Homo sapiens: one gene and its partners. The protein of the gene in region 1 interacts with the protein of each later gene in a pairwise test. Each region holds a gene or a part of one and is shown on either strand. Other genes may lie near its edges.

The links.
Region 2: the proteins of DEF6 (region 1) and L3MBTL3 interact in binary tests that used the Homo sapiens proteins (3 or more experiments, as listed by UniProt).
Region 3: the proteins of DEF6 (region 1) and CDC42EP1 interact in binary tests that used the Homo sapiens proteins (3 or more experiments, as listed by UniProt).

The regions. Positions count from the first base shown.
Region 1 is NC_000006.12:35,300,818-35,307,929, forward strand, and holds part of DEF6 (differentially expressed in FDCP 6 homolog), read left to right. Parts: intron 1-7,112.
Region 2 is NC_000006.12:130,063,550-130,070,661, forward strand, and holds part of L3MBTL3 (lethal(3)malignant brain tumor-like protein 3), read left to right. Parts: intron 1-2,803; coding exon 2,804-2,939; intron 2,940-4,780; coding exon 4,781-4,872; intron 4,873-7,112. UniProt on the Homo sapiens protein: Is a negative regulator of Notch target genes expression, required for RBPJ-mediated transcriptional repression. It recruits KDM1A to Notch-responsive elements and promotes KDM1A-mediated H3K4me demethylation.
Region 3 is NC_000022.11:37,563,382-37,569,919, reverse strand, and holds the end of CDC42EP1 (cdc42 effector protein 1), read right to left. Parts: intron 3,849-6,538; 5' UTR 3,571-3,848; coding exon 3,108-3,570; intron 1,813-3,107; coding exon 1,100-1,812; 3' UTR 515-1,099; downstream 1-514. UniProt on the Homo sapiens protein: Probably involved in the organization of the actin cytoskeleton. Induced membrane extensions in fibroblasts.

The DNA of each region.
Region 1 (7,112 bases):
CCTTGGGAATGATGTGTGTCCTACTGAACACACCCTCTTACCCAGGGGAGCAGTTTTGATTTTAGAACTAGTGGAGGATCAGCTGATAATTTGGCCTCCTTCCCCACTGACTATCAGGCAGTGGGGTGAAGGGGTATGTAGATGGAGCAGTGTGTCTCTGGTTTGATGAGGATCTTTGGGTGGCACCAGGCCTACCACTTCCTCCTTGACTGGCAGGAGCTGGGGGAAGGGAGGGAGGGTAGACAGGGGCCTTCCAGTCTCCTGCACCTCCAGCTGATATTCAGGGCAGTCCTGGAGCCCAGAGTGAGACTCTTGCCCACTGAGAATCAATGAGCTTCAGGTTTTGCCTCCTCTGGAGAGGGACAACCACCTTCTCCTTAGTGGAGGAAAAGTTAAGAACAGCTCCAGTCCAAAAACCTGCTGGCTGGCTAGGATCATTAGCTTTGTCCTGACCCCTGTGTGCTACTGGTCTCCCCAGGCTAGGATTTGTGGGTAGGGAGGGGAGGATGATTTAATGATGTGCAGAGCACTTGACTCAGAACCACGCAGGCTTGGATCCGTACTGCTCCCCATCTGGGTGACTTTAAGCAAGTCACTGTCCATCTTCAGTTTCTCATCTATAAACCAGGGGGTTGATCACCAAGCTGTCCTACAAAACTAAAGAATAAATTCTGTACCTCAAGTAGGTAAAATTGGTCTATGATGCAGCCTCTCCTTTCCCTTAACTGGGCCTCTGTCTCCTTTGATGCCCACACCCAACCCCTACAGCCCCTTCTTGCTCTCAGCAGGTGACACAGCTAATCCAAAGATTCCCACCTTTTAAAATTTCCAGTGTTCCTCCATGATAGTAGTTATGCTTTTCTAGTAACCCACTAGAATACATTTGGTAACTCTTAAAAGGAGCTGTGTCTTTTTTTTTTTTTTTTTAAGACAGAGTCTTGCTCTGTCACCCAGGTTGGAGTATAGTGGTGCAATCTCAGCTCACTGCAACCTCCACCTCCCAGGTTCAAGTGATTCTCCTGCCTCAGCCTCCCAAGTAGCTGGAATCACAGGTGCCCACCACCACGCCCAGCTAATTTTTGTATTTTTAGTAGAGCCGGGGTTTTGCCATGTTGGCCAGGCTGGTCTTGAACTCCTGACCTCAGGTGATCCACCTGCCTTGGCCTCCCAAAGTGCTGGGATTACAGGCGTGAGCTACTGCACCTGGCTGGATCTGTGTCTTTTAAAAGGATCACTTGGAACCTAGATTCATTTAAAGACCTTGCTGGGCAAGGTGGCTCACATCTGTAATCCCAGCACTTTGGGAGGCCATGGCAAGAGAATCACTTGAGTCCAGGAGTTTGAGACCAGCCCTGGCAGCATAGCAAGACCCCAACTCTACAAAAAATGAAAAAAATTAGGCATGATGGCTCCTGCCTATAGTTCCTGCTACTCTGGAGGCTGAGGTGGAAGGATCGCTTGAGCCCGAGAGGTCAAGGCTTCAGTGAGCCATGGTTATACCACTGCATTCCAGCCTGGGCAATAGAGTGAGATTCTTTCTTAAAAAAAAAAAGTCAATTTAGGAGAGAATTCTTTCTGAAATCATTGCTGGGTGCTTTTATGGATTCCCAAACCCTGGGGATCCTGAAGGCTGGAAACTACAGAATCAGTTCTTGCTGACTGTTGCCAACATGGACCTGACACCCACACTTGAGTTTTTAGGATCCCCAATCCCCACACTTGAGTTTTAGAGGATCCCCCAAGTCCTGAGAGGAGAACTACTCCCCTACATGCCTCCAGAGGAAAGAGTGAATAGATGAAGCATCTCAAAGGTCAGTGACTGCCAACTCAGAGGCCAGAGGCTCCCTGGGTTTGTGGAGACTGTGGGAGTCCTCTCTGAGGAAACCCAAATGGCAACTTGTGAAAAATACACCTGGACCCCACCCCTGGAAACTCTGAGTCAGTAGGTCTGGGCTGGGCGGGCATGTTTCAGTTTCACCAGTTCTCTGGGTGATTGTGGTGCTCAGCCAGGGCCAGTGCACTGTAGAGATCAAGAGCAGGGCTTTGGAGTCAGACCTTGGGCAAGACGCTTCCTCTCTCTGAGCCTTGATTTCCTCATCTCTAAAATGAGGATAATGAGAGTCCCCTGATCCAGGGCTGAGGACTGATGGAGATCTGCAAGTGAGCTCCTGCTCACAACTCCTCTGTCACTGCCATTTCCTTTGCAGCATGACCCCTCCCCTAGTCACACCCTCTCTCCACCCCCAACCCCTACCGCACCCAGGCACAGGAAGCTGACAGTCTGAGGTCGGCCCAGCTCTCTGGAGAGAGGCCCTGAGTGTCTGGGCATTTAATTCTTCCTTGTCCTACTATCTGACAGCACGCGGGGGTCAGAGTCTCTGCCCTGGGTTCTTCAGGATCCAATGGCAAAAGTGCAGGTGAGGTGCAGGTCTTAGGGACAGTACAGGGCGACAGAACTAAGCTCAAATAACTGTGCTGTTATGTGGCAGGTTCTGTCCTGGGTCGGGGAGGGCATTCATAGGTCCTCTCCTAAGACTCCCTTTTTAGAGAGATGAAAACTGAAGCCCAGTAAGGTTAATATGCTCACTGGGATTTAGTCAATCTCTGTCTGGCTTTTGTATTTTGTCTGCTTCTTCCCATGAAGTGTTTAAGTTCATTCAAGAGATACTTAATGAGCATCCATTAGGTGCCAGGCCCCGTGATACCACAGTGAAAAAAACGCAAATGTTTCTACCCTTGTGGTGCTGACATTCTAGTCAGAGGAGGCAGATAATAAACTAAATGAAATGTACAATATGATGAAAGATGATACATGACATGGAAGAAAATAAAGCAGAAATGGGTAGGGATCATGGAGGTCAGGCAGGATTGGGTTACAGGTTTAAATAAGGTGATCAGGCCGGGCAGGGTAGCTCACACCTGTAATCTCAGCACTTTGGGAGGCTGAGGCGGGTGGATCGCTTCAGCCCAGGAATTCAAGACCAACCTGGGCAACATAGTGAAAGCCCGTCCCTACAAAAGATAGAAAAATTAGGCCCAGCACGGTGGCTCTTGCCTGTAATCCCAGCACTTTGGGAGGCCGAGGCGGGTGGATCACCTAAGTCAGGGGTTCGAGACCAGCCTGGCCAACATGTTGAAACCCCATCTCTACTAAAAATACAAAAATTAGCTGGATGTTGGTGGCAGGCACCTGTAATCCCAGCTACTCAGGAGGCTGAGGCAGGAGAATTGCTTGAACCCGGGAGGCAGAGGTTACAGGGAACTGAGATCACACCATTGCACTCCAGCCTGGGCACAAGAGCAAAACTACATTGCAAAAAAAAGAAAACACACACACACATATACACACAAAAATTAGCCGGGTGTGATGGCGCACGCCTACAGTTCCAGCTACTCAGGAGGCTGATATGGGAAGATCACCTGAGCCAGGGCGGTCGAGGCTGCAGTGAGCTGTGATTGTGCCACTACACTTCAGCCTGGGCAACAGAGTGAGACCCAGTCTCAAAAGATAAGGTGATCAGAGGATATTCCACCTGGTCAGGGAATATATATTCCCTGAGAAGGTGTCATCTAAGTAAAAACAGGGAGGAGGAAAGGGTTTGAGCCATGCAGTGACCTGGAGAGAAATATTCCAGGCTGCAGGAACAGTAAGTGCAAAGGCCCTTGGGCAAGAATATGCCTGACCTGCTGGAGGAACATTAAGAAGGCAGAATGGCTGGAGGCAAGTAAACAAGAGGGATGAGGTCAGAGAAGGTGCAGCAGGCCAGGTCACATGGGGCCTGGAGGCCTGTGGAAGGACTCGAACTTTTACTCTGAAAATTATGGGAAACCATTGGAGCATTTGAGTTAGACTTTAGGAGTCAGTCAGAAACATTCAGTGAATGGGGGACATTATACTATCTTTGGAGTCAAGGTTGAGATTAGAGTCATTGCTGCCCTCAAGGAATGTAGAACACCCAGAAATGCTCACACAAACAGTGAACAGCAAAAGAATATTATTATAGAGCAACTTAATAGGGCAAATTAATAACTGGGTTAATGGCACCCTTTTTCATCCCTATTGTTTTAAATTTTATCCTAAAGACAATATATTCTCCTGGTTTAAAAAAAGAAAACACACAGAAGAATATAATGTTAATGAAGAAATTCGGGGCTGCGCTGTGGTAGCTCATACTTGTAATCCCAACACTTTAGGAGGCCGAGGCAGGAGGATCTCTTGAGCCCAGGAGGGCTCTTCCTGCCTCGGCCTCCTAAAGCATTGGGATTACAGGTATGAGCCACCATGGCCTGGGCAATATAATGGGAACTCATCTCTATGAAAAAAAAGAATTTTTTTTTTTTTTTTCCAGACAGGGTCTGGATCTGTCACTCAGGCTGGAGTTCAGTGGCACGATCTCAGCTCACTGCAGCCTTGACTTCCTGGGCTCAAGCAATTCTCCCACCTCAGCCTCCTGAGTAGCTGGGACTACAGGAGTGTGCCGCCACACCCGGCTAATTTTGGTATTACAAAAAAATTTTTTAACTTAGCTGAGCATGGTGACACATGCCTGTAGTCCCAATTACTCGGGAGGTTGAAGTGGGAGGATCGCTTGAGCCTGGGAGGCGGAAGCTGCAGTGAGCAGAAATCGTGACACTGCACCCCAGCTTAGGCAACAGAGTGAGACCCCGTCTCTAAATAAATAAACAAAAATAAAAATGAATTTATTATAAAATTAAAACATGTTAGTGGTAATTTTTTTTTTGTGGGGGTGTGTGTGTGTATGTGTGTGTGTGACAGAGTCTCACTCTGCCACCCAGGCTGGAGTGCAGTGGCACTATCCTTCCTGGCTCACCTCAACCGCCACCTCCCAGGTTCAAGCAATTCTCCTGCCTCAGCCTCCCTGTAACTGGGATTACAGCCGCCTGCCATCACACCCAGCTAATTTTTGTATTTTTAGTAGAGATGAGGTTTCGCCATGCTGGCCAGGCTGGTGTTGAACTCCTGACCTCAAGTGATCCGCCCACCTGGGCCTCCCAAAGTGCTGGGATTACAGGTGTGAACCACTGCGCCTGGCCAAATTTGTTTTTTTGTTTTTGTTTTTGTTTTAATTTTTAGATGGAGTTTCACTCTTGTTGCCCAGGCTGGGGTGCAATGGCACAATCTCGGCTCACTGCAACCTCTGCCTCCTGGGTTCAACTGATTCTCCTGCCTCAGCCTCCCAAGTAGCTGGGATTATAGGCGCCTGCCACAATGCCTGGCTAATTTTTAGTATTTTTAGTAGAGACAGGGTTTCAACATGTTGGTCAGGTGGGTCTCGAACTCCTGACCTCAGGTGATCCACCTGCCTCGGCCTCCCAAAGTGCTGGGATTACAGGCGTGAGCCCCTGCACCCGGCCCAAAAAAATTTTGAAGTAAAGAAGAATATAATGTTGGCCGGGCGCGGTGGCTCATGCCTGTAACCCCAGCACTTTGGGAGGCCGAGGCGGGCGGAACACCTGAGGTCAGGAGTTTGAGACCAGCCTGGTCAACATGGCAAAACCCCGTCTCTACTAAAAATACAAAAATTAGCCAGGCATGGTGGCGGGCGCCTGTAATCTCAGCTCTTCGGGAAGCCGAGGAAGGAGAAGCACCTGAACCCGAGAGGCAGAGGTTGCGGTGAGCCGAGATCACGCCATTGCACTCCAGCCTGGGCAACAAGAGTGAAATTCTGTCTTAAAAAAAAAAAAAAGATGAAAGTTTCTCCCCTCACTCTGGAGAGGTGATCACTGTTAACAGTTTGTGAGTCTTCTAGATTCTTTCTGTATACAAATAAACAGGTTGAACCATATGAAATTTCTGACACTTGATTGTTTTGACCTACTGAAATACTAGTTTCATATAATTCGACCTAATCTTTGCACATGTATTTGACAAACATTTCATTCTGTAGCTTGCTTTTTTTACATGCCAGTGTAGTATGCATATCTTTCAATGTCTGTTCATATAAACATAACAAAGATCACCCACAACTTTTATTAAGCAGTGCACTATGCACCAGGTACTCTTCACTCAAAACAGCCTTTGGAGCAGACCCTATCATTATCCTCACAGAGGAGGAGACTAAGGTGTTGGAGAATTAAACATTTGCCCATGAGCACACAAGTGGGAAAAGTGAAATCTTTCCAGCTACATACAGTGGTTCCTGACATGGTATACCTGTTTCCTACTGGAAGAGCCTCAGTTTGTCTCCATTTTTTCATATTATAAACAATGCTTAATGAGCATTCTTGTATCTCTCCCATGAGTGTCTGTAGGTTGGATGATTAGAAATGCTGGGGTGGCCGGGCGCAGTGGCTCACGCCCTGTAATCCCAGCATTTTGGGAGGCCGAGGCGGGCAGATCTCCTGAGGTCAGGAGTTTGAGACCAGCCTGGCCAACATAGCGAAATTCCATCTCTACTAAAAATACAAAAATTAGCCGAGCATAGTGGCACGCGTCAGCAATCCCAGCTACTCAGGAGGCTGAGGCAGGAGAATCACGTGAACCTGGGAGGCGGAGGTTGCAGTGAGCCAACACCGCGCCACTGCGCTCTAGCCTGGGCGGCAGATTTGGAACGCGTCTCAAAAAAAGATAAGGACACGGGTAGTTTGAAAAGAGGCCAAGAGACAGCAGATGAGAATATATAAAACTTGAACACTTGTCACTTCAGAAGTGGTCAGTGGATGTTGGCATTATTCTCTTGAGGTGGTCACCCTGGGTTTTAAGTGCTAGGCATTGAGCCAGTGGCACCCCTTAGAGTGGGGATTGGTATTCTATGACCACAGATGTGTTAGGCAAGACTTTCCTGGAATTAGTGATAAAACCAAACTCAAATGGCTTAAGGGAGAGGGGATTTATTGGCTCACATAACCAAAAACTCCAGGGATAACTGCCCAGAGGGAAATGAGGGAAAAAAAGGAAATACTCCCTTCCTGGGATCTCCCACTTCCCAGTTTGCCAAGGAAAACTGAGCCCCAGGAGGACACTGAGGCAAAGTCTCAATACTTTCTCCCCCTCCTCTCTGAAAAGAGAATAAAATGAAGGCTTGGCACACACACCATCTCCGAGACAGTGCTAGCTCCTGCCTCCTAGGAACTGATTCCAAGGTGAACTG
Region 2 (7,112 bases), about 95 Mb from region 1:
CTGGTCACATTTTTGTCTACTGATCAGTGTGTAACCTTGTTTTATGTGTGTTTCTGTTTAAAGACACCTCATTTAATGTATATCGTTCATTCATTAAAAATTGAACTCACAAGTAAGAGCACTATCACTCCTGCCTGATGAAGCTTATCTAGCACAAGTATCTTCTCTGTAAGGCAACATCACAACCTTTTGGCACTTAGGGACACTAAACAACACCTCAGCACTATGTCAGGGGCCATTTTAAACAGTAACATCACCCAAGAAAAGCACAAAAATGTAGAATATGTGGCACTAAATGGACCACACAAAAGACACTTATTCCCAGTACGAGAACTGAAACAGGAAGGTAAAGCTCCTTCTTGATTGACTTCAGCTGGGAACATGCATGTTGAGTGACTCAAAAGTGTTGTCAGTCTGTGCATGTCCACGAACACTGCGAGTATTATTTTGGGGTTACAAATAAATTGTAGCAAGTAGATGACTTCACAAACGTGGAATACAGTATGTGAATAATGAAGACTGGCGGTATGTCATTTTTTCCTTCCCATCACCATTTACTAGACTTGGTTAGGTGGAGACAAGATGGATACCTGAAATGATAGAATGTCACCAGGCAAATATTTTGCAAAGGATATCAGGGCAGAAATTTTAAAATGTTGGCAAGAAAATGTTTTTTAAATGATTGCTAGGAAAGGAAGGCTTGGGGTGAGGAGAGCTGCTAGGGAGGAAGTAAAAGGATCAGTGTGAGACTAGAGTTTCTGTTGAGATTGAGGAAGAGGCATCTGGGGGTAACTGGGTTTGCAGACTGGAATAGGAGTATGTGTCCCAGGGTTGGATTTTTAAATTTAATACTAAGAAGCAGAGCAGTTCTTGTTGGGGACTAGATTCATGGGAGTGAGGGCTTGAAGTAGAGAGGAAGGGAGTCAAAATGCCAGGGTATTGGATAAGTCATCCATATGGATGACGAAAGTACTCAGATGGAAAGGAAGAGAATAAGCCAGGGCTAAGTGTTTGGGTGGTTAGCATGGGGGAAGAAGAGGAGGAGAGTTGCTTCAGCCATATGGCTCGAGCCTCGGCAGGGGAGAACTGGCCTAGGATCCATGGTGTGGTGGGAGGCAGCAACCCGTCCTGTGTCTATGGGAGGTAGAGTTGGGAACATGAGCACCCTTGGGGAAAGGCTTGAGAAGGACGAGCTAGGTATGACTGTGGGCAAGGAGGGTGAGGATGTAGGAGATTGTTTCTCAAAGCATAGCTTTCCGGTGAGCCTGAGATAGAGACTATGGGGAGAACAGAGAGAGCTTGGCTCAAGGGAGCAGAAGCTCAGAACGGTGTGCCCACAAGGAACTAGAGGCTGTAAATTACTATAGGGCTGAGCTCTTAGGATCGGCCAGATATAGCTGACTGTGAGAGAGAGGAGAGAAGCAGCCTTCTTTGCATGGGGTGGCTGTAGGGAGTGGGGGTAGCTCCTGCTTTACCTGAGAGATTGTATTTCCCAGGGATTCCAGTCTCAGCTGTATGGAGAGACTCTGTTCTCTCTGGGGGGAGTCAGCTTAGTTGTAAATTTGATGTATGTGGTATATCAATACATTCTAATTGAAAAAATGCTGATACATAAAAGAAAATATGAAAAGTCCATCATTCCCATTTTGCCCCTTCCTTTTCACTACCACTTCCTAGAAGAAATCATTATTAACATTTTGGCAAATATACCTCCGGACTTCTTTTTACTATGTGTTTACATATGTATGCATATGTGTGTATATTAATGTATGTATATAAATGCATATACTTATGTATATACACATAATACACATATGTATACATAATCATATACCCATAAATACATGTGGACCCCCACATGTCTAATTTTCTCATAAACTTAACTCATTCTGTGTTATGTGTTCTACCACTTGAATTTTAACTATATGTTTTAGAGAACTTTCCATGACAGTAACTGTACAGCTACCTCACTATTTGAGGATTAATTGCCCTGGCTCTGCACTCTGGTCTAAGTTCATCATTCAGGGTTCTGCAGGACAGACACTCCTGGAGCGGGTAGAGGTCTGGCGTGATACGTGTTTCTACTTGAACACATCTTCTTGTGTTAGTGGGAAGAAGTCTCAGGGGCTGAACCCTCTCTCTAAGAATCCAGGGCAGGGTATGATCCAACTCAGGTCTCGTAAGCCTATATGACCTTCTAAATCAGAATGTCTCTAAGTGGGGCCCTGTAGGCATATGTATGGCATGTGTTATACAGAGTACATTCTTACTAGCATTCTTAGGAGCCTGTCTCATCCAAGTAATAAACTAGGAGAGACGCTTTTCTTTCTTTCTTCCAACCCAGCTTTGGTGGAGAAAAAAAGCTTGACTTCTGTGCATATGCACCAGCTGTGGTCTGCAGCCTTCAGTGCAGGGCAGACTGTCCACTCTGGGGCCATGCTAGAGCTGAGTGTGCTGTGCTGGTGTGCCTTCCAGCTTACCCTGGGGACACATCTTGGTACAACATAGGGAGTGGAGAAAGGACCTGCAATTGTGGGATATTATGCTTTGCCCCCTATCCGTGTGGTTGTAATGTAACTGAGAATGTTGCCAGAATGCCACAGCTCAGCTCTTCCCACTTTAATAGCTTTTGTCTTTAGATTCTGGTTATTTGTTTAGTTGTTTTATTACTGTTAATGTGGGTGGTTTGATTAACATTAAGACTATATCATGCCTGGTGTCCATGTTTATTTTTGTGTATATATATATATATATGAATATTCTGAGTTAAAAAAAATAATTCAACCTATTTTACCTGTTTCAGGTTTGTGGATACCGGATAAAGCTTCACTTTGATGGGTATTCTGATTGCTATGACTTCTGGGTGAATGCAGACGCTCTGGATATCCACCCAGTTGGGTGGTGTGAGAAAACCGGCCACAAACTCCATCCTCCAAAAGGTTTTGTCACTTTTTGTTTGATATTTTAAATTCAGTAAAAACTCATTTTCTTACATGCTACATTAGAATTGTTAAGAATTCAGACTTTATGAAAATTCAGATAGGCACAAATTTAACCTTATTGTTTATGATGAAACCATGTTTATTAAAGTTAAAGAAATAAAAGCAGAATCCAGCCTAGGAAAATAAAGTATGTTCATATGCTTATTTTCATGTAAAATAACATTTGCATGATACTCAACTTTGACTACAAATAATGTTTACCTGCAAATTTCTATTATTAAATACATACATCTTTGAAAAAACTGATTTGAAAAATTAGTTTAAATTAGTTTATATAACTAAGTTTAGTGTTAACTGGTTTAAACTAATTTTTCAAATCAGTTTTTCATTATATAGAAAATCCTGAGAAATTATGCTTGACCGTATAGATCTTAATATTTAGGAGATTGGCAAGAAGACTGTAACACTAAAAATTGGCTTAGGTGGGGGGTTGAACTCATAGCAATTACTTTTCTTATATTTGAGTACTTTATATTATAGTCCCCCAGTGATTTTCCTATTTCATGTTTATATCAAAGTTCAAGAATAACAGATATCGTCTTTTTCACTGTCTGCCTAAAGTATTCCCTAATTTTTTTTTGAGACGGAGTCTTGCTGTGTCGCCCAGGTTGCAGTGCAGTGGTGTGATATTGGCTCACTGCAGCCACTGCCTAGCAGGTTCAAGTGATTCTCCTACCTCAGCCTCCCGAATAGCTGGGATTACAGGTGCCTGCCACCATGCCTGGCTGATTTTTGTGTTTTTATTAGAGACAGAGCTTCACCATGTTGGCCAGGCTGGTCTCAAACTTCTGGCCTCAAGTGATCTGCCCACCTTGGCCTCCCAAAGTGCTGGGATTACAGGTGTAAGCCACCGTGCCCGGCCATATTTAGTAATATCTTATTCCCTTCTATTTCAATCATTACATTGATTTTTGTTTATGTCAAAAATTCAGGTTACTGGGTTGATATTTTTGGCCTGTCTCAGGGCTTTAATGCATTAGCCATCCCTTTGTTTTAAGTGAAAAAATAATGGCAGAGTGGTATTTTCAGATAGCTGAAGGATTCAACAAAATAGCATAGAAAAAGTGAGGGTGAAAAAGAAAATCTGTAAGCCTTTTCACGAATTGATCTCTTATATATGGTAAATTATTAGCTGGTTTTTTCATGCTGCTTTCTGGACTTTAATGAATGTAAAATAAAGCATATTCGCAGATAAAATAAGATGCTCAATTTCCTTTTTAAAGGAAATGTTAACTTCAATGAAATTGTAAAAATTAAGGGGAGGACATTTCCCTTATTGTAATTTGCCAGCATCCTTACTTCATAAACCTTAAATTGTCCTTCTTGAAGTGATAGGCCAAAAAGATTTTACCTGTTTCATTTCTATTATTTCCACCTTTCCACTTGTTCCTATAAGTTAGTCTTCCCAAAATAGACTAGGTGAGAGAAAAATAAAGAATTTTGACTATTGTAGTTCAGTATCTATACCGCTGAGGAATTCTACCTAAATACTGGTACAAATACCCTGATAATAAGTGTCCTGGGTATAATACATATTTGTTTCCTTATTCCTTTTCTTTATATCCATTACCATTCATTCAGAATTGGAAAATAATAATACAGTTTGTTGAAAATAAACATAGTCTAAATATGCATAGTTATGAATTATGAGTTAAATTTTGTTTATTTAAAAAGTCATTTGATTGATTTTGGCATGTTAGAGATAAAAGTGGGACTGGAAAACTAAGTGTAAAATATTGTGGTATTTGAATCAATCTGTTCATATGTGCTTACTCTAGGGTATAAAGAAGAAGAATTCAATTGGCAGACCTATCTTAAGACATGTAAAGCTCAAGCTGCTCCTAAGTCATTATTTGAAAATCAGAATATAGTAAGTACATACGAAACACGTTTTCTTTCAAAGGAAGAAGTTTTTTGAGTGTCTCATAGGATCAATTACAAGTGATAACAAGGAACTATAATAAATTTTATCGCCTTGGTAAATAGAGTACTCTTATCTTAATTAAAGTTTAAAATTAGCTTAAAATCTTCATGAACAAATATGTTTTATAGCCATATTATGGTTGTCTCTTTTATTGCATAGTAGAAGACAAGATAGTACAAGATTCAGGTGAGATTTACAATTAAGATGCATAAAAAATTAAATTGGCTGAGATATTTTATTGTTATTATCACTTATATGGGAGTGCTGTTCAAATGGGATTCACATAGCCAGATGAAGGTAGCCCTGTTTCAGTTTACATGTAGGAGGTCACTGGAGACTGTGACATATCTTCACTCTAGCTTATAGCTTTGTTTACAGTAAACAAAAACAAAATCTGGATGTGCGTGTCTTTTCTACTTGACCGGTATTCCTGCTTTCCATAACATGTTCCTCCATTGGCCGACTTGATCCATGACATTTTTCTTTTCCCAAGTTCTGATCTAATTGGAAAGAATAAAGGGCAAGCCAGTGGAAAACCAAAATGCCATCTTTACAGATGGTCAGAGCTGAGTTGGAGGACGTGCATGGCTTGTATCTGCAGACAAATAAGCTTGATTCTGAGCCCTAGAATGGAAGAGATTTAATTCGCCTTTCACGCCCATCCCCCAAGCCTGGAGAACACTAGACCCTTGAGGAGCAGAGTGGAAACTGTGCACCCTGCAGCCCAGCTTTCTCTCTAGTATGATCAGTTCCTCCTTTCCAGAGTCACCAGGCTGGTAGCAGTGAGTGAGACAGTGGGGAGAAGCAGTAATGTTTCACTAACAGCATTCCCTTCAAATGGAAATAAATAAATATCAAGAGCAGGAGAAACCTCCTCACTCCAAAAATCCTTCATTTGGGAAACAGTGTTAACCAGTTGGTTTGAGAGCATCAATCTAATGGCTGAAATGTTTTCTGATTTAATCAAACACAAACCAGGTTGGATTACAGAACTGACACATTGTGTTTGTGTGCATGCGTATGTGTGTTTAGGTTAGTAATAGTGTTAATGGGCCAGCTTATTATTTTAAAACATCTTAATTGAGAGGATAGTGTAATTGCCAAAGTGTAACAGTGCATTGTCAGTTGGTATTCTCTGTCAAAACTTATCCCAGGGAGGAAGGTCAGTTGGGTGGAAAACTTAGCAGCCTGCTGTCTCTGCTCCAAGTTTCCTAATCCCTGTCTGGTTCTCTGATGATGACTTCAGTCAGGGATTTGATTAACTGCCTTGAACGGTCTTCCTAAATTCTATGCATTGCCAGCATACAACTTAATCTTGGGCTCTCCATTTCGTATCTAAGAGACAATTAATTTTTCCATTTCTAGATTACCTCAGAATACTCAAACATTTATGATCAGAACTCGGATAAATTTCAGTACTTAAATGCATAGTAAAGATTTCTGTATAGCATTAGTGCCTGTTCTATCCATTCAGACACAACTTATTCTAACATTTTCAGATACACGGCTGTCTACATTTTTGCAATGATAGTTGTATAATTATAGTAAAATGAGAGATAGCATTTATTTTGCCTAAAGTAGTTAGAATAATATCTGTATAATTGAGTCTAACAGAGGTTTTTGTTTGTTTTTTGTTTTTTGTTTTGTTTTGTTTTGTTTTTAGGGAAGGAATGACTTGTAGTGTGTTGTGATTTGCATAATTGGTATCTAGATATACTAGTCTATAATATGTAGAGATAGATAGATTAAGATATTATTCCTCACAAAAGATTGTAAGAGATTTTATATATTACTGTACCTTAAGCACTAACTCTTACAGAACTTTCATTGTTTTTGTTCCATGTTCTGAATGACTGGTTATCTGTGGATTTCTTTAAGTTACCAACTATTTTGAATAGCTTTGTACATCAACAGCCAATTCTTTTGCTGCTATTAGGAATAAAATATATCTGTAGTGTTGAGTAAAAGTTGTAATAATTTGCAGCCTTTCATATATGAAGATGACCTACTTTCGAGAGTACTCTTTTGAGAGATATTTTCGGAAGTGGGAGTGAATTTGTACTGACTCATGCACATTTTTAACTTGATTAAGTGCATATTTTGTGTGAATAATTTTCATTGTTAAGTCTGTAATCAAGAAAAGAAGGATAAAATGTGAACTATATGGTGAATAAAACTTGCCTACC
Region 3 (6,538 bases), on another chromosome or scaffold:
CAGGGAGTGCACCACCTCACGTTAGCTGTTTGTGGCTAAATTTAACCGGTCTTCCGATACCTAAGGAGGGCATTTCTCTTTCCGTGCATTTTAATGCTCCTGGCATTTTCATAATACTGAGGAGGAAACAGATATGAGGACACCCGGCTGCCATGTTGGGAGGCTGAGACATGCTCCCAACAGTCCTACGCACTTGCTTCTGTCTACTTGCCCCCACTATCGCCAGAGCAAATGCCATGCTGCCCTGTGGGATTATGGGGCAGACACGAGTCCCAGGCACCTGGGCCAGGGGCTGTTCCCGGAACTGCAGATAAGGGCTCCCACCTGGGCCTCTTATCTCAGGGGCGTTCCAGCCTGGTTACTCATTACCCTCCCCTTGGCGCGTCCACTTCCCTTCCCTGCTGGGGGCCTTGATGGGGGATCCTTGGCTTTCTAAACTCCCTGGAGGGGAGGGGACTGAAGCAGACAGAGCTGATGCTGTTGTCCCAGGTCCCCAAGCATCTTGCAGGACACCTTTTATCAAAACAGCCTTATTTAATCAGGCCCCAGAGGCAAGTCTGGGGTATACAGGCAGGTGGGATTCCTCCCCGGGAGGTCATACCTGACCTTTCTGGGGTAAGAGGGAGGCTGGGGCGGGGATGTTGGGGAAGCGGCCTGGGAGACGGCTGTCAGGGTTGCAGCAGGGACGCTCTGGGATGAGCTGGGGGCAGGCGGTCCCTTTGGGAGGTGAGACAATGGCCCTGTGTGGTACACTCCCTGCCCCCCACCCCCCACGGGCCGCTTGGTCTGGCACAAAGGACACACTGTGAGGCTGGGTCCTCCAGCTGGTGGGGGTGGCATGGAGTGGGGCCTAAGGAACAGCTATTAGGTCCAGAGTGGCAGTCGGGGGAGGTGGTCAGTTTGGCAGGGCCTCTGGGAGCATAAAAGTCCCAGAGCAAGCCTGGCCTTCCCTGTCCTCCCTCCCATGTCTGTCCTGCAGAGGTGGGGAGGGGTTTAGGGGCAACATGACTTCTCCCCTCTCCGGTCTGGTAGGAACCAGCTGTTAGGTGAGGGGCCGGCTCTGCACCTAGGTGGGGCCCTGGGACCGTGCCCCAGCCCCTCACACCTTGACCTCATCATCCTCCTCAGCATCCGCAAATTCAAAGGTGTTTGCTTGCACTGTGCTGGGCACTGGGGTCCTGCTGCCTGCCTGGGGCGCCCTCCACTCTTCGTCCAGGCTCTCCCAGGAGGCCCGGGCTTGGGGCAGCACCTCCACCCGCTCCTGCCGCGCATCCATCTCTGGGTAGTGGTGGCCGCCATCCCAGCCTGCTCCCCAGTGCCTGCCGAGGGCAGGGCCAGCAGGTCCTCGGGGACCCCCTCCCACTGGGCTGGACTTCACCTCAGCCACTGGGCCCAACCCAGCTGTTACCCCATTGGGACAGTGTCCATGGGGTGTGGAGCTTGCGGCAGGGGCTGGGGGATTTGCAGCAGGACCCGTGGGGGTTGCGGCAGGTGCTGAGGGGTTTGCAGCAGGCGCTGGGGGGTTTGCAGTAGTGGCTGGGGGGTTTGCAGCAGGACCCGTGGGGTTTGCAGTAGGGGCTGGGGGGTTTGCAGCGGGGGCTGGAGTCTCAGCTGCAGGGGCTTCTGGGAGGCTCATGACCCCTAGCAGCTCGCTGAGGAGTGAGGGCCCAAGGTCGAGGTCCAGGCGGAAGGACAAGAGAGAGTCAGAGCGGCGAAGCCCGGGCTCAGAGGGGAAGGAACCATCCCGGTCTCGGTCATGCGGCTTTTCCGAGCGGGGCAGGCGGGAGATGGTGCAGAACCCAGAGTCCAGGCCTAGAAGAGAAATGGGCAGTGGGCTCAGAGCTGGGGTCCCTCACCAGGAATTCAGGAGGGGAGACAGGACCAGTCCTGGCTTGCTGTGTGGCCTCTGGCTAGTCCCTCCCCTCTCTGGCCTCGGTTTCTCCCATCTTTCCAATAGAATACACTCCATGGTCACCTGTGTGATCTTCCTGTCTACCCCGAAAGCTGAAAATCATCATTATCCTCATTTCCATTATGCAGATGGGGAAAGTGAGGCTCAGTTTGGGATGGGGCGAAGGAGCTAGCCCAAGGCCATAGAAGTCTGACGAGGTGGAATCAAGTCTGGAGCTCAAATCTCCTCTCAGTCCCAACTGTGACCTCAGCCATGGCCACCGGCTCCCTGCCATGACGCTGGCCGATGGCTGCAGGTGAACCCATAGCACGTGAGCTGGTTTGTGGACACAGGATGGGACCAGCAATCAGGGTCTGACTGTATAGAAATGAAGGACAGACATGTCCAGCCCCTGCTTCCAGGACTACAGACCTGAGACAGAATCGGGTTTCTGTGGACCAGTCCTCAGTGCGGTTCTGAGCAGCCGCCTGGGGCAGGGGTGTTAGAGCCACTCCCGCAAGGCAGGGAGTGGCCACCAGGTGGCAGCAGGGGCCCATGGTTCTCAGGTGAGCTCTGACCGAACGGCCAAGGTGGCACTTCTGGCTGGGCAGGAAGGCCTGTGGCTTGCGGTTCCTGTGAGTGGTTTCCCAAATTTGTCGAGTTACAGGAAACCAAGTTCAGATAACAACAGCTCCAGTGTCCTGAGCACCTACTAAGTATCAGCCCCCCTGCGCCTCTCCTGGCACTGAATCTTAGCAATGACCCCGAGAGACTCATTATCCAGGCGAGGACTTGAACTTATAGAGGTCAACTGACTTCCTGAAATTCAGGCAGAACTGGATTGGAATCTAGAGCCCAGGCCCTTCACCTCTCCATGATATCATTCCGACATGAGGGGAAGGCTTTGGTTGAAGGGGGCAAGAATGGGTGGGTGACTGGTTCAGCTAAGGCCCAGAGAGGGGGATGTGCTTGCCCAGGTCACACAGCAAGTGAGGGGCAGCTAGAATTCAAACTCCACCTCCTCACTCTCAACCTCAGGTGTTTTGGGGAGTCAGCTTGTTCCCACCACTGCACCCCCTCCCCATCCATGATGTGGGGTCTGGGCCTGACCTCTGTGGTCACTTGGAGCTCACTTGGAGCTTGGAGGAGCCACTGAACCCCTCTGGGCCTCAGCCTCAGCCTCTGAAAAGTGGGCCAAGATGGCCCAGGCCCTCACCGTAGCTGGAGTGGCCGTCCGTGGAGCTGGTGGGGCTGCTGTCGAAGCTGAGCTTGCCAACCACGAGGCTGTCGTAGGCGGCCTGGTTGAGCTGGGGCAGGGAGATGGCGTTCTTGATGATGGGGGAGATGGCCGGTGGAGCCGGGGAGGGTGCAGGGGGAGATGCCATCCTCCGGGGGGGCGCCCCCACCCTCCGCACCAGCTGCAGCTTCTTGGCCAGGAAGCTGCGGGGTGAGCGATGGGTGCTCCCGGAGCTGCCACCGTGGTTGCTGAGGAAGGACGTGTCCCCGAAGACATCCCCGCCACGGCCCACATGCATGGTGTGGCGGAAGTCCCCGAGTGGGTGGCTGATCATGTCTGCAGTCAGCCGCCTCTTTCCCTGTGAACTGGACACCCAGCCCACAGGCGAGAGCTTGCCCAGGCTCATGGTGGCGGCGCCTCTGCCCCCCTGGGGGCCGGGCATCAGCTCTGGCTGCTCACAGCTGCTAGTCCATGCCTACCAGGGGCCGGGGGAGGGAGGTGGGCTGGGCTTGGGATGGCTGCTCAGCTCCTTTGCCCTGGCGGAAGCTGTAAATGGCACTCTCCTAAGGTGAGGTCCCCAAATGCAGAGGCTGTGGGGGGTTCATGGCTCGTCTCTCCCAGGGGCCCGGCTCCCAGCCCCTCAGAAGCAGCTATAGATGTTCAAGCGCAGAGAAAGCACCCCCGAGGTGGTCGGCAACTCTCCTGCCCAGAGGTGGAGACCTGGAAGGAAGACAGAATGGGCGGTGACGGCAGGCCCGCGACAGAGGAGGAAATCCGGGGTCCAAACATTAGCAGCTGAAGAGGATAGATGATCACACCCAACTACACGGATGGAGGCCTCCAACTGACGCGGGGCAGAAGCTAGGCACACGGGGACCCAAGTGAGTCTGTGTATAGAAAGTTCAAGAACACAGCCGGGTGCGGTGGCTCATGCTGGTAATCCCAGCACTTCGGGAGGTTGAGGTGGGTGGCTCACCTGAGGTCAGGAGTTCGAGACCAGCCTGGCCAACATAGAGAAACCCCGTCTCTACTAAAAATACAAAACTTAGCCGGACGTGGTGGTGCGCACCTGTAATCCCAGCTACCCAGGAAGCTGTGGCAGGAGAATCACTTGAACCTTGGAGGCAGAGGTTGCAGTGAGCCAAGATCACATCACGGCACTCCAGCCTCGGCAACAAGAGCAACATTCCGTCTCAAAAAAAAAAAAAAAAAAAAAAAAAAAAACAAGGAAGTTCAGTAACAGGCAAAACCAATTGATGCTATTAGCAATCAGAATGATGGCAGCCTCTGAGCAGGTACTGACTGAATAGGGGACAAATAATTCATTGAGCTATACACTTAAGCCATGTATCAGGAAAAAATAGAAGCACTCATTCACTCATTCTAAGTCTGAGCAACATAATGAGACCTGGTTTTTACAAAAAAATTTTAAAAAAATTAGTTGGGTGTGGTGGTGTATGCCTGTGGTCCTAGCTACTCAGGAGGCTAAGAAGGGAGGATCCTTTGAGCCTAGGAGGTCAAGGCTGCAATGAGCCATGATTGTGTCACTGCACTCCAGTCTGGGAGACAGAGCAAGACCTTGTCTCAAAAAAAAAAAAAAAAAAAAGGAAAAAAAAAAGAAAGCACTTATTCTGCAGGGCCCACTTATGAAGCACTTACTAAGTGCCAAGACCTCACCCGCCTCATCGTTTAAACCCATACAATACTCCTGAGGGGCTGGGCGCGGTGGCTCACGCCTGTATTCCCAGCACTTTGGGAGGCCAAGGCGGGTGGATCACGAGGTCAGGAATTAGAGACCAGCCTGGCCAACATGGTGAAACCCCGTCTCTACCAGAAATACAAAAAATTAGCTGGGCGTAGTGGCGGGCGCCTGTAATCCCAGCTACTCAGGAGCCTGAGGCAGGAGAATTGCTTGAACCCGGGAGGCAGAGGTTGCAGTGAGCCGAGATTGCGCCACTGCACTCCAGCCTGTGCGACAGAGCGAGACTCCGTCTCACAAACAACAACAACAACAAAAACATTACTCCTGAGGGCAGCATGAGATTAGAGAGGGGAAACTGAGGCACAAAGTGACGTAACTTGCCTGAGGCTACGTAGTAAGAAATGGTGAAACAGGCCCCACATCCCAGAGCCCTGGAGCCCCAGGCTACACTGCCTCCTGCTGAGTAACTGAGTAAGTCACCTCCCTTCTCTGTGCATTAAAATCTCTGCCACGCAGCGAAGCCAGGAGGGAGCAGACACCTCACCAAAGCTTTGTGAAGCTGGGTAAACAGCCAGAGCAGAGGTTCCTCTGAACCATCCACCTTCAAGGAGCTTCCTGGAATAAGGATCCTGTGGTCAAAAGTGGCTTTTTCCAGCTGCCTCCTCCATGCGTGAGCATATTCAAGTCTCTGAGAAGGCCCGCAGGAAAAGACTTTATCACAGTTTGTCAAACTGACGTAGGAGCCTTGCTGTCAGGGAGCAAGCTTTGGAAAAAGCTCAGCTGGTGCCAAAAGCTATTTCTTGTGCATCTCTCCTTCCTGATTCCCCACCCCCACCATACACACACACACATCCTCCCCTGCTCCAGCTTCTCTAAGCATCTCTTGTTCTGACCCCTTTCCTTCTAGTGTCATACAAAGTCCAGGCTAGAGCGCACCTGTGATCCTATGCTTTTCCTGTGGCCCACTGAGGGCAAAGCTGGCTAGAGGTCAGATCCACAGAGCTAGTTGAGACTTGAACTCAGAGCCTCTGACTCACATAAGCCCTTGACTGGCTTGTGGAGCCCAGTCTCGCCTCCCGAGATCGGCAATGCACTTGGAGGGTGGGGAGGCCGCCTGGATTTTCCTGCCTTTCTCCCTTGGGCATCTAGCTTGGGCTCTGCACTTAACAAGTGCCAAATCAATGCCAGCTGAATCACAGATCTCCATGATAACCTGCATGCCAAAACATCACCCTGGCCCCTTCTGAGAGTGGGAGGGCAGGCTGGGCTCTGTGTCCTCACAATGTGACCTTGGGCAAGTCACTTACCTACACAGACCTGGGACCTCAGCTGATAAAAGTCAATAATGATCCTTAAGAACACCTATGTCTGCGGCTCAGCCTTCTTCCTTTTTTAAAACCATTGCTGCCACCTCCAAGCATAGAAATCTCAATACTGCCCTTCTAATGTTATTTGAAATTCAAAATAGGTTAAATAACAAGATAAGAACAAAGAAGCCAATAGGACAAAGCTTGCTTTGTTTTCTGACTACATTCTCTTCCCTTCCCACCATCTGATCCTCCCCCAACCCTAACTCCTCCCCCTCGTGGGGGGGAACTTCTGAATCATCTTCTTCCCTCCCTGGCACCCCCGGCACCGAGAAGTCCTCGTGGAATGTTTGCTGAAGTTCTGAAGCGATCCACAGTTGGCCAACCATTACATGATGTCA